Linked DNA regions of Homo sapiens: all the other regions are linked to region 2. Evidence: fine-mapped expression QTL. A gene starts in region 2. Each other region holds a variant in brackets. All regions are shown on one strand. Distances are between the middles of the regions. Region 1 overlaps TMEM175 (transmembrane protein 175). Region 2 holds the start of SLC26A1 (solute carrier family 26 member 1). Region 3 overlaps GAK (cyclin G associated kinase).

The links. PIP is the estimated chance that this variant, and not a neighbour inherited with it, causes the effect.
Region 1: its variant is the best candidate, but not a certain one, in a credible set for the expression of SLC26A1 in pancreas (GTEx, PIP 0.52).
Region 3: its variant is the best candidate, but not a certain one, in a credible set for the expression of SLC26A1 in esophagus muscle (GTEx, PIP 0.75).

Annotation. Positions count from the first base shown.
Region 1 is chr4:945,326-949,423 of GRCh38, reverse strand. It overlaps TMEM175 (transmembrane protein 175), which reads right to left. Exons shown (of 11, transcript NM_032326.4): 2 at 1,532-1,715; 3 at 1,270-1,308. The coding sequence starts at 1,684. Among named protein-coding and RNA genes, the nearest start is that of TMEM175, 15 kb to the right of the region's middle. RefSeq lists an enhancer at 3,695-4,098. The variant A/G (reference allele first, on the strand shown) is at 2,281.
Region 2 is chr4:991,220-995,354 of GRCh38, reverse strand. It overlaps SLC26A1 (solute carrier family 26 member 1), which reads left to right and starts at 1,951. Exons shown (of 3, transcript NM_022042.4): 1 at 1,951-2,054; 2 at 3,625-4,135. The coding sequence starts at 3,652. All of the region lies in intron 2 of IDUA (alpha-L-iduronidase), which reads right to left. RefSeq lists enhancers at 991-1,802, 1,803-2,614.
Region 3 is chr4:898,518-902,623 of GRCh38, reverse strand. The region is part of intron 5 of GAK (cyclin G associated kinase); the gene reads left to right. Among named protein-coding and RNA genes, the nearest start is that of GAK, 32 kb to the left of the region's middle. The variant C/T (reference allele first, on the strand shown) is at 2,499.

The DNA of each region.
Region 1 (4,098 bases), 46 kb after region 2:
TCACATAAATGTGTTCTCTGAATGAGCTTTTGACTCTCCAGGACTTTCTGAGACTCAGACCCTCCCTGTGACCCAGTTAGGACAACAGAGAAAAGACAGGGCACTAAACACCACAGTCCTAGAAAGGTGCCCTGGCTGCAGAGAAGTCGGAGCAGGTTTAGGTTCACAGGTTTTTATTTTCAACCACCCGGGCCCTTCATTGTCATGCGCCCTCTGGCACGGGCATCACAGGTGGATGTGGCCGTACCTCAGCGACCCCGTTCTGAAAGGGGCAGCCAAGGCCAGTACCTCACGACTGCATTTGGCCAAGCCCACCCCATGGGCCTCGGTGGGGACGCAGCTTTCCTGAGCAGCTGCCCCCCTAGGGAGGGCGGGAGCGGCTCTGGGGTCCCAGTGCCTGTGCTGCTTGCTGCCTGCTGGTGCCCAGGGTCTCCCTGCAGACTGGGCCAGGCTCCACCCGCATTTCTACTTATGAAAACCCTATGTAAAGTCTCATCATCCCCTTCGCACAGCTGAGAAAGCCGAACTCTAAGCAGCTCCCATGACTTCTCGGCGTCCCCCAGGCTCAGCTCACGAGTCAGGACTGGAGGCCCAACCTCAGTACTGGCCCAGGAAGGGCTACGTGGTCACTGCTGTGCCTTGCGCACCCATGAAGCTTGGGCCGCACGACCCTGTCATGAGGACACAGAGCCAGGCAGGTGTGGGCCCCAGACGCCCTCCAGTCATTCCCCTTCTAAGATGCTGTTTGGCTCTTTAGCTCAGAAACAGTCAAGGTGGAAACTCTGCTTGTAAACCCTTTCCCGCTCACCTCCAGGCCTGCAGGAGCAGCCGGGGTGGGAGTGTCCCCGCTGAGACGGGGCGCTGGCCGCGTTTACTCAGAGCAGCTACGTAAGGGGCCTGCCTGCTGGGGCAGCTGCCCTCCCGCAGAGGAAACTTCTGTCCTTGGGGCAGGCCCGGAACCTTCCTCTTCCAACCTGTCCTCTGGCTCACTTCCAGGGTGCTGCCTTTGTCCACTGAACTCGGAAACAGAGCCCTAGGAGCCCAGTCTCCCACCCTCCCAGGAGGCCAGGACCTCCGCCGGGGTGAGCACAGGCTGAGCAGGACTTGTTGGCTCCCTCCCTTTCCAAGGAGGCCCCCGCCTCCCGCCTCTGCCTCCTAAGCCTCAGAAGCTTCGAGGCGTGCAGGGTCAGCACCCTGTGCCAGGTCGAGCCTCGGGGACCCTATATCTTCGCAGGGCCACACCACGCAGAGCACAGCCTGCCCCGTTACCTGTTCTGGGGAGATCTCCGTGTGGGTCACAGGCAGGATCTGAGGGGGCAAAGAGACAGAAGGAAGCAGGAGAGCAAGAGACGCTTGTTGGATTGGGTGTGGCAGTACTGGGGACTCGAGGGCAGTGCTGGGCCCCCCTAAGCTGCCTGAGGAGCTGGGGGACCCAAGGATGCTGGCAAGACCTAGACAGGTCTGAGGTGGGCTGGGCAGTGCCTCGAGAGGCTCGGGGTGGGGCAGGCCTAAGCAGGGGCCCCGTACAGACCATGACGGTGGCGATGATGGACAGCAGGGCGTCACTGAAGCTGAGCATGCGTTGGGAGCACTGGATCCCCTCCCCAGCGTCCTCGTCTCTCCTGCCTGGGGGGCAGTCCCCCGGTGTATCCAGTGCCTGCTCTGGGGTCCGGGGCTGGGACATGGCGGGGCCGCTGCCTGGCGGTTACAGGAGCCTGGGAGGAAAGGCAGGTCTGAGTGTGCCTGTGGGGCGCTCCTGGAGGTCGGCCATGCAGCCTCAGCCCTGGTGCAGGGACAGGGACTGGTATGGGGGGGGGCTTGGCCGCCACTGAGCAGGGGAAGGGTCCACGCTGCTCTGTCCTCTCCCAGGTGCCCCTCAAATTTCTGGCCTCCAGGCTGAGAGGCCAACAACAGATGCCACTCCCGGCCCTGTTACTGGTGAACACTGATCTGGGTGGACTGGGCCTCAGTTTCTCCTCAGGAAACGGGAGAGACAAGGAAAGGCACAGAGATCACAGACCCCAAGGCCGACCTAAACGTGGAAGAGGAACACAGCACCCTGCGGGGCCCTTGACCGTGCATGCGTGCCTGGGGCTGTCTGTTCTCTACAGGGCCCGTGCACACGTGCCTGGGGCTGTCTGTTCTCTACAGGGCCGCGCTCTCCCCCGCTCTCGCTCTCGGGGCCCGTGCACACGTGCCTGGGGCTGTCTGTTCTCTACAGGGGCCGCGCTCTCCCTCAGTCTCGGCACCTGTGCACGTATGCCTGGGGCTGTCTCCTAC[A/G]GGGGCTGCGCTCTCCCCCGGTCTCGGCGCCCGTGCACGCATGCCTGGGGCTGTCTGTTCTCTACAGGGGCCGCGCTCTCCCTCGGTCTCGGCGCCCGTGCACGCGTGCCTGGGGCTGTCTCCTACAGGGGCCGCGCTCTCCCTCGGTCTCGGCGCCTGTGCACGCGTGCCTGGGGCTGTCTCCTACAGGGGCCGTGCTCTCCCTCGGTCTCGGCGCCTGTGCACGCGTGCCTGGGGCTGTCTCCTACGGGGCCGCGCTCTCCCTCGGTCTCGGCGCCTGTGCACGCGTGCCTGGGGCTGTTTCCTACAGGGGCCGCGCTCTCCCTTGGTGACCTTTGGGGAAACCAAGGCCCTGCATATGTAGCCAGTTAGCACCAGGGCAGGCACTCCAGTCCGCCTGTGGGAGCCGGGGCTGGGTGCACACTGGGCACACGCCACAGCTGTGGCTCAGCACAGCACTCCCCAGGCATTTTTAATATCAGAGATGCATCTGGGAAGATGAATAAGATGCCAGGTGGAGAGTACTCTGGACAGAAGAGACCCCAGCGCCTCACGGAGACAGAACTGAGGTATGGCTGCAGGAGCCATTGCTGCATGGTGCTGGGCAGCCTCGTGCCAACCAGGCACTATGGATTTCACCCTGCACCCGAGTGGGCAGCCTCGTGCCAACCAGGCACTATGGATTTCACCCTGCACCCGAGTGGGCAGCCTCGTGCCAACCAGGCACTATGGATTTCACCCTGCACCCGAGGTGGAGGCTGGGCACACTGAGACAAGTTCCCCAAACATAGAATGTGGCCAGAGAGCCCCATGTTGGCTGAGCCCCACCTGCAGCCAGGTGCCCCGGAGCAGGGAAGAGGGCAGCAGTGTGTCAAGGACGCCAGTCAGAAGGGCTGCTATGACCTAGGAGAGGAGTGACGGAGGTCTGGCATCCCAGGAGACACACAGCATGTGGGAAAGCAGCTCCTAAGAGTATTGGGGGCTGCCGTGGGGGGTGACGGAGAAGGGGGAGCCCACCTGGCCCTGATGCCACCGTGGTGAGGAAGGTAGGTCAGGGCACATTCTTGAGGGATGGTGAGTGCTTGCTTCAGGCTTGTTTCCTGGGACACAGCAGAAGCACCGGAGGCTGTCTCAGGGCAGGGGAGCTATGGGGATGGAAGGAGTCAGGCTGGAGCTGCAGCCTTCAAAGGTACCTCGGATTGAGCCGTGTTAGAAACAGAAGTAATTTCTGTGCTACTTGGAAATGTGGGGGTGGTCCGAGGGAGTGGCACCCGGGAAGGAGGAGAGGAGCAGCCGGGGGCAGGACAGGCTGGGCTCTCCACCATTTAAGGGGCGGAGACCTCTTCAGGAAGGGTATGGGGAGAGCCCTTCAGCACCAGCGGGAGGTGACAAGCCAGAGCCCCCAGGTTTTACTCCAAAGGGGGTGCTGTTTACTTGGCCAAGGGCATCAGGGGACTGAAATATGTGGCCAGCTAGAGGGTCCGCAGGAAGAGGGATGTGCTGTAGTCTGCTCACACCAAGGCGAGACGCACAAAAACAAGGAGAGTTCACCCCAGAGAATGGACAGAGGCTCACTGGTTTCCAGCCGGGAAAAACAAACACACAAGGCATTCCACTTCACTAGCAATCAGGGAGATCGGGGAGGTGCAAATGAAACGGAGAGAGGCCAGCCAGGGTGGTGGGCGTGAGGCGACGGGAGGGCAGGGACCTGGGGAAAACAGAAACCGAGGCTGGAATGAACGGTGGGGACAGACGGCGGGGAGTGAGACGACAGGACGGCAAAGACGTGGGGAAAACAGAAGCTGAGGCAGCAACAAA
Region 2 (4,135 bases):
TGAGACAGAACTGGCCGGGCACGGTGGCTCACGCCTGTAATCCCAGCACTTTGGGAGGCCGAGGCGGGTGGATCACAAGGTCAGGAGTTCAAGACTAGCCTGACCAACATAGTGAAACCCTGTCTCTACTAAAAATACAAAAATTAGCCGGGCGTGGTGGCACACGCCTGTAGTCCCAACTACTCAGGCGGCTGAGGCAGGAGAATCGCTTGAACCCGGGAGGCAGAGGCTGCAGTGAGCCGAGATTGTGCCACTGCACTCCAGCCTGGGCAACAGAGCGAGACTCCATCTCAAAAAAAAAAAAAAAAGACTTGTAGGCTGGAGTGAAGCGCTACAAACATACCTCACTGCAGCCTGGACCTCCAGGGCTCAAGCAATCCTCCTACCTTAGCTTCCCAAAGTGCTGGGCCAATGACAGCGTTTGTTTTTGAGACGGGCTCTTGCTCTGTGGCCTAGGATAGGGTGCAGTGGCCTAATCATACCTCATGGCAGCCTCAAACTCCTGGGCTCAAGCCATGCTCCCACCTGAGCCGCTTGAGTAGCTGGGATACAGGCACACACCACCACACCCAGCTAATTTTTTACTTTTAATTTTTTAAAGGTTGGGGGGCAGGGGGCGGCCGGGTGCAGTGGCTCAAGCCTGTAATCCCAGCACTTTGGGAGGCCGAGGTGGGTGGATCACGAGGTCAGGAGATCAAGACCATCCTGGCTAACATGGTGAAACCCCGTCTCTACTAAAAATACAAAAAATTAGCCGGGCGTGGTGGCGGGTGCCTGTAGTCCCAGCTACTCGGGAGGCTGAGGCAGGAGAATCACTTGAACCCGGGAGACAGAGCTTGCAGTGAGCCGAGATCATGCCACTGTACTCCAGCCTGGGCAACAGAGCGAAACTCCGTCTCAAAAAAAAAAAAATTAGCCGGGCGCGGTGGCGGGCGCCTGTAGTCCCAGCTACTCAGGAGGCTGAGGCAGGAGAATGGCGTGAACCCAGGAGGCAGAGCTTCCAGTGAGCCGAGATCACACCACTGCATTCCGGCCTGGGTGACAGAGCAAGACTCCGCCTCAAAAAAAAAAAAAGAAAAGGTGGGGGGCGTCTCACTATGTTGACCAGGCTGGTCTTGAACTGCTGGCCTTAAGCGATCCTCCTGTCTAGGCCTCCCAAAGTGTTGGAATTACAGGAGTGAACCATCGTGCCTGGCTAATAATTCCTTTTAAAAAGCAGCTTACCCTTATTTTCACGTGTGGGCCTAATTTAGTTCACTTAAAAAAATCATTTATCTTCACCCCAGCCCTATGAGGCAGGCACTGCCGGTCCTGGTCTGTGGTAGAGGGGAGGGCAGAGGAGCCGTGAGGGTGACCAGGCGCTGTGGGTCGGTGCTGGGTCCAGTCAGACCAGGACTCCTGGCCAGTCACGGCACCTTGACCCCGGCAGTCCTCGCCCTGGGCGGTGAGCACCACACACAGGGCTTACGCGAGCACACACGCATATGCACGCACCGGCAGCCTTGGGCTGAGCCGGCTGTCAGCCTCTGCCCTGCTCCAGCTTGGACCAGGCTGGCTCCTTGCAGGACCAGGAGGGTGTCCGGCGACTGGACACGGAGACCAAGCCTCCCTCAGCCCCGCCTGGGTTTGAAGGCTGCTGCACTCGACCCCAGACCCCAGAGCTGAAGGTTTACCTGTGCTCAGCCCCTGAGCCCCCGCCTCCCGCTGGTCCCTAAGCCCCCCCGGCAGGGCCGCAGAGCCACAGCTGCAGCGGCTCCTGGGAGGCTGGGAGCTCCTCAGAGGCCCACACAGCTCTAACTCCTACAAGCCCCTGATTACAGTTCAACTCCCGGATCAGCCGATCAGGTAACATGGCTGGAGAAACCCATGACTCAGCAATCTGTAGGTAAATAATTGAACTACAGAGTCCAGGGCACAGACCACTGCCTGCAGGTTGGCGCCACCACCCCCACTCTCCCCGCTGCTCGCGGGAGCCAGAGGGCCCTGCGGTCCTCGGTGGTCTTGCCAGCCCCTCGTCATCCCAGGGCCCTCCGCGCCTGTGAGGACTCCCTCAGGTAAGAACCATCCTGGGCCCAGATCTCAGCTGCAGCAGAGGGGGGCGTGGGAGCCGAGGCCAGAAATGCCCTGGACTCGTGGTTTCTTAGGGGCACCCTCAGGCTCAAGGCAGGTGGCCCTACTGTCCCCATTCCACACACCTGGACCCCAGGGGCTTGGGGTGGGCTTCAGGGCATCCAGGGACCCAGTGTGGTGGGGTCTTCCAGGGAAGGGGACACAACTCTTGCAATGTTGCCTGAGGGCCAGGACCCCCGCTCTGTGCCCCAGGGGTGCTGTGCCCAGCCTGCATGTGTCAACCTACCAGGCTGGGCTCACTGCCCCAACACACCCGCCAGGAGACTGGAGCTCGCACACCCTGGGCCAGCGTGCAAACAGCAGGCTCAGCCCAGGCTCCAGGGTGTCCTGGGCACCTGGTGTCCTGGGAGCAAAGTCTTTGCCTAACGTCGCTGAGAAGAATGTTTAAAGTGAAAGTACATTGGAGTCTGCAAACAGGACAGACCCGAGGCCTCACGTGGGACCAGTCAGGCCTCTAAGCACCGCCTCCCTAACGCCACGGTGTTTTCCGAGATCAAGGGAAAGGTCAGGTGCCCTTCCGGCTCTGCCGGCCCAGGGTGACTGTGTGCAGCGGGCTGGGCCCTCTCGGTGCTGCCTCGGGACAGTGTGTCATGGCCGTTCCACAGTGAGCTGGTGCAGCCTGGGAAAAAGGGCGCCTCACGTCCCAGAACTGTCTGGGCAGGGGAGACAGACGCCAGTCACCCTCCTCCCCTCCCAGCTGGCCCTGATGGGGCCCCCGTCCAGGCATATTCTCAGAATTCTGTCCCAAGTCCAGGCGGATGGGCTAGGCTAGTGTCTGAGTGCTGCTCCCCCAGCAGACTTGGGGTCCCAGTACCCACAAAGCTTGGCAGGGACATAGGAGGCCTCTTCCTGAGACTTCCGCCAGCCCCAGGACCCACAGGGCAGGTGACAGAGGGGTGGGTGGAGGTGTCTCCAGGAGAGCAGGCGATGGTTTGGATGGGGGAGGGAGGGCTCTGGTGTGGGCATGGGGTGGACAGCAGGACCGTTTGCCAACCTGGGGAGCCAGGGAGGTGGACACGGAGCAGCTGGACTCAGGCTTGCCTGCACCTGTGTCCAGTGACTGTGACATTCTGACGGTAGGCACATGTGCGTGGTGGCAGCCCAGCCTGTTCCTGCCCCGTTGGGGAGGTGAGCTTCAGGAGGCTACAGGGTGGTTTTCAGCCAGGAACCGCAGAGCCAATAGGCCGGAGCTGAGCCTGGACAGGGTGCCGCCACGCCGCCCCTCAGCACTGCTGGCCTCAGCACACCCCATGGCATGGGCTTGGTGTCGTAATCCCATCTCACCTCACGATGGATTCTGGATCCAGCAGGGCCCAGCGTCCATCCATACCGGGCAGGGGGCTGGGGCCCGCGCTGCCAGGAGAAGGCCCAGCACCAATCCCCGGCCCTGGGTGGGCGAGGGGTCCGCCCCAAGGGGCCCGTTGCTGCCGGGGACCTTGTCGTTTGGCCCTGGATCCGGGGGCTCCTGTGACCATGCCCTCTTCTCGGCCGCAGGTCGGCCACGGGACCTGACGCAACAGGATGGACGAGTCCCCTGAGCCTCTGCAGCAGGGCAGAGGGCCGGTGCCGGTCCGACGGCAGCGCCCAGCACCCCGGGGTCTGCGTGAGATGCTGAAGGCCAGGCTGTGGTGCAGCTGCTCGTGCAGTGTGCTGTGCGTCCGGGCGCTGGTGCAGGACCTGCTCCCCGCCACGCGCTGGCTGCGTCAGTACCGCCCGCGGGAGTACCTGGCAGGCGACGTCATGTCTGGGCTGGTCATCGGCATCATCCTGGTGCCGCAGGCCATCGCCTACTCATTGCTGGCCGGGCTGCAGCCCATCTACAGCCTCTATACGTCCTTCTTCGCCAACCTCATCTACTTCCTCATGGGCACCTCACGGCATGTCTCCGTGGGCATCTTCAGCCTGCTTTGCCTCATGGTGGGGCAGGTGGTGGACCGGGAGCTCCAGCTGGCCGGCTTTGACCCCTCCCAGGACGGCCTGCAGCCCGGAGCCAACAGCAGCACCC
Region 3 (4,106 bases), 93 kb after region 2:
TTTTTGGGGTTTTTTTTTTTTTTTTTTGAGTCAGTCACTCTACAGCCCAGGCTGGAGTGCAGCGGCACTGACGGGGCTCACTGCCGCCTCGGCCGACTTGGCCCAGGTGATCTCCCACCTGAGCCTCCTGAGTAGCTGGGACCACAGGCGCACACCACGCCTGCCTAGTTTTTGTATTTTCAGTAGAAATGGGGTTTCACCATGTTGCCCAAGCTGGTCCAGAACTCCTGAGCTCGAGTGATCCACCCGCCTCAGCCTCTGAAAGGGGTCGATTCCAGGTGTGAGCCACCGCTCCCAGGCTGCCAAAGTTTTAAAGCCTTATCACTCCCAGATACTTTTGTCCATGTCTCTGGGGACGTGAGGACATTTCTGTTTTTTTTTTTTTTTTAGGCGGAGTCTTGCTCTGTTGCCCAGGCTGGAGTGCAGTGGCACGATCTCGGCTCATGCAGCCTCTGCCTCCTGGGTTCCAGCGATTCTCCTACCTCAGCCTCCCGAGTAGCTGGGATTACAGGCATATGCCACCACGCCGGGCTAATTTTTGTACTTTTAGTAGAGACAGGGTTTCACCATGTTGTCTAGGCTGGTTTCGAACTCCTGACCTCAAGTCACCCTCCCGCCTTGGCCTCCCACAGTGCTGGGATTACAGGCGTGAGACACCACGCCCGGCCAGGACATTTTTTATGTGGTTTTGACACCATTATCCGCAGTGAGGTGGGAGGAACCGAGCCTTGTCTCTTGCCCTCCTGTTCTCAGCCTTCCCTGGTTTTCCCAAAGTGTGGCTTCTCTCAGACCTCGCTAATCGGGAGCGGCGCCTCTGGCCACGGCTTGTGGAGGATGCCCTGTGCTGTCCTTGGCTCCCCGCCACTGCCCAGGCCAAGGGGACGAGGAGGCCAGTGAGGCCCCAGCCCCGTGGCGTCTCTTGTGGAGCACGGAGCTGTGTTTCAGATCCTGCTCCCAGCACCCGCCTCAGCTGCTCCTCCAGCTGCTGAAATCTACCTGGCCTGTGTCCAGAGGTTTCGTTCATCTGGAATTGACCTTGTGTGACCTGAGGTGGGAGCTGTATCCTTGTGTCTACCTGGCCCTGCACCCCGTGCATCAGCTCATGTCTGCCCATGCAGCCACCTGGGCCCCGCCTCCTCTCCAGCGTCTGCTCGTGGGTGCCTAGGAGGCCTCAGAGCCCCCCAGCTCTCCCCGTGTGCCCTAGGTGGGGGATCCAAGGCCGTGGCTCTCCACGTGTGCCCCGGGTGGGAGGCCCAAGGCCGTGGCTCTCCACGTGTGCCCTGGGTGGGGGATCCAAGGCCGTGGCTCTCCCCGTGTGCCCTGGGTGGGGGATCCAAGGCCGTGGCTCTCCCTGTGTGCCCTGGGTGGGGGTGCCTAAGCCGTGGGCACCCATGCTGAGCTGTTCTTAACTGCACAGGCTCATTCCGCCTCAGCCTGCCTCAGCCCACCCAGGGCCAAGGCTCTGGCAGGCAGCTTCCCTCTGTGTTTCTCTGGTTAGGGCTGCCTTTTCTCTACTTGGCTGTACACTCCTACTTTATAGCACAGGTGTCTTCACGTAGATTTTGAAAATGGGTAAGTGTGGCCTTTTTCGTTTGTCCCCTGAACTCAGAGGGCCTAGAATGCCAGGGTGTAAGGTGGCCGACTGGACAGATGCCCCATGGCAGAAGCCTGTGGGCACCGCCATAGAGCCTGCTCCTGAGCCCCAGGCCCTTTCGCTCCCATGGCCACCGCTGTGGAGCCTGCTCCTGAGCCATGCCCCAGGCCCTTTCACCCCTTCTCCTTCCTTTCCTCCCTCCCTCTCTTCCTTCTGTTTCTTCTTTCCTTGTATTTTACTTTTCTAAAAGTACATTCTGCCCAGCACACAGGGTTGCTTTTGAGGGAAGCTTCTTCAAGGTTGCAAGCAAGACCCCTGGTTTCCAGAAACCCATGCGCCTGAGGCCCCATTCTGACGGAAGGGGCTGCAGGGCTCCATGAGGGGCCAGTCCTGCCCGTGGAAGGTGCTGTTTGCTGTCTGGGTGGTTCTTCCTGAGGAGTCTCTGAGTGGTGGATTTTCTCATGACACCGAGACCCTCCTGGTTCGCATTTTTGAAGTGTGATGGGTCGTGTAGCGGGGCTTGAGTGTGTATTTTAAGGAGAACAGAAACAGAAGGGTTGAATTGGTGAAGAATCCGTGTCTGTGAGCCAGGCCTGCACTTCACAGCACTGGCCTTGCTGCTGCTCCACAGCGGCGTGGCGGGAACCCAGGCCAGCCCTGCAGCCCGCGTGTGTTCACCTGTGGCCTCCGCCGTGGGAGTCTGGACGGCTGTTTGCGGAGGGGCAGGCAGCACACGTGGCCCCACTCGCCTGCCCCGTGCGTCGTCCTGCTGTGCGCACAGCTTCGTCTCTGTTGGCTGTAGAATGGGAACGGGCACAGGTGGCCCCACTCGCCTGCCCTGTGCATCGTCCTGCTGTGCGCACAGCTTCGTCTCTGTTGGCTGTAGAATGGGAACGGGCACACG[C/T]GAGGGGATGGGCACTCCTGGGCCTTCAGTGGCCGTGTGCCACTGCATCTCCCCGCTGTGTGCTCTGCATCCGAGCCAGGGTCGCTGATCTTTTCTCTGGGCGTCCTGTGAGGGGAGCCTCGCCCCACGCTCTGCATCTGATTTTCTTGCTCAGCCCTGTGGTTCAGAGGCCCCGGTCCTGTATGTGGCCCGCATCTCCTCGGGGGCCAGTGGTGGCCTTAGGCTTCACTGGGTTTCTCTGGTCGGCCATGGGTGGCATGTGTGTCCGTTTCTTTCCCTTGTTTATGGTGAGCCATCCTGTCTGCACCACGTGGACAGCCTGTTCAGCTTGCTGGTCCGCGGAGCAGGCGTCCTCTCTAGGACTGGGGTCTGCAGGGCGCTGTGGTTGGAGAGCGTCTGCATCTAACCCTGGGCGTCCCCTTGCACTCTTGGATGCCACGGCTCTGCACTTTGCTGTCCTGGGGCATGGCGGGTGCTGCTCCCTCAGCCTGTCCTGGGTGCCCATGGCCTTAGTTTGCATTTTTTCTCCTGTCGATGAGGCTGGCTTATCAGAACTTGGGCTTCCTCTGGGAAAATGCCTGCCTTTCCTCGACTTGCCTTCCTCTCGCTGCCTGTGTGAGCCCATACTGACCGCGTGCATGCCGAGCACCTTCCGTCCGTGGCTGGTGTGCTGCCCTCTCGGAGCCCTGTGCTGCCTGTGGGAGCCCGTACTGACCGCGTGTGTGCCGAGCACCTTCCATCTGTGGCTGGCGTGCTGCCCTCTTGGAGCCCTGTGCTGGCATTGTTCTTCCTCTCCAGAGGGATGCCTGTGCTGGCCATCCTGCCACGTCTGTGCTGTCTGTCTTGTTGAAGAAGCCGCTCCTTCCCTATCTCAGAAGGAGCTCCTCTGGGCCATCTTCCGAAAGATCTGTGGTTTGCCTAAATGTTGGGGCTGAGGCTTCCTTGATTGTGTGAGCTGGGGGCGAGGCTTTCTCCTTTCGTTCCACATGGATGCCTGGTGCTGGCAGCTGTTTTGCCATGGCTCTGCCATTAAGATGGGTGTTGTGTGGGGCGTGAGCACTGTGGGGCTGAGTCACTGCGTTGCTGCCTTGTCACGCGTGCAGCCTCTGGCGTCCGTGGCTTCTCAGCAGCACTCGCTGGATTCCCTGTTTGGCCCGAGCTCCCATGCCCTGTTATCAGAGCTGCGCCAGAAGGTGTAATGTGGGCTTCACAATTGTGTGGCCCTTTCTAGTTCTTTGTGTCTCTGTATACTTTTTTTTTTTTGAGTCGGAGTCTTGCCCTGTCACCCAGGCTGGAGTGCAGCGGCGCAATCTCGGTTCACTGCAGCCTCCGCCTCCCAAGTTCAAGCGATTCTCCTGCCTCAGCCTCCTGAGTAGCTGGGACTACAGGCGCCCGCCACCATGCCTGGCTAATTTTTGTATTTTTTAGTAGAGACGAGGTTTTACCATGTTGGTCAGGCGTGTCTCGAACTCCTGACCTCAGGTGATCCGCCCGCCTTGGCCTCCCAAAGTGCTGGGATTACAGGCGTGAGCCACCACGCCCGGCCTGTGAGCCCCATTATTAACTGGATTATCTTTCTTTGATTTATGGGTGGTTTTTAATTTTCTG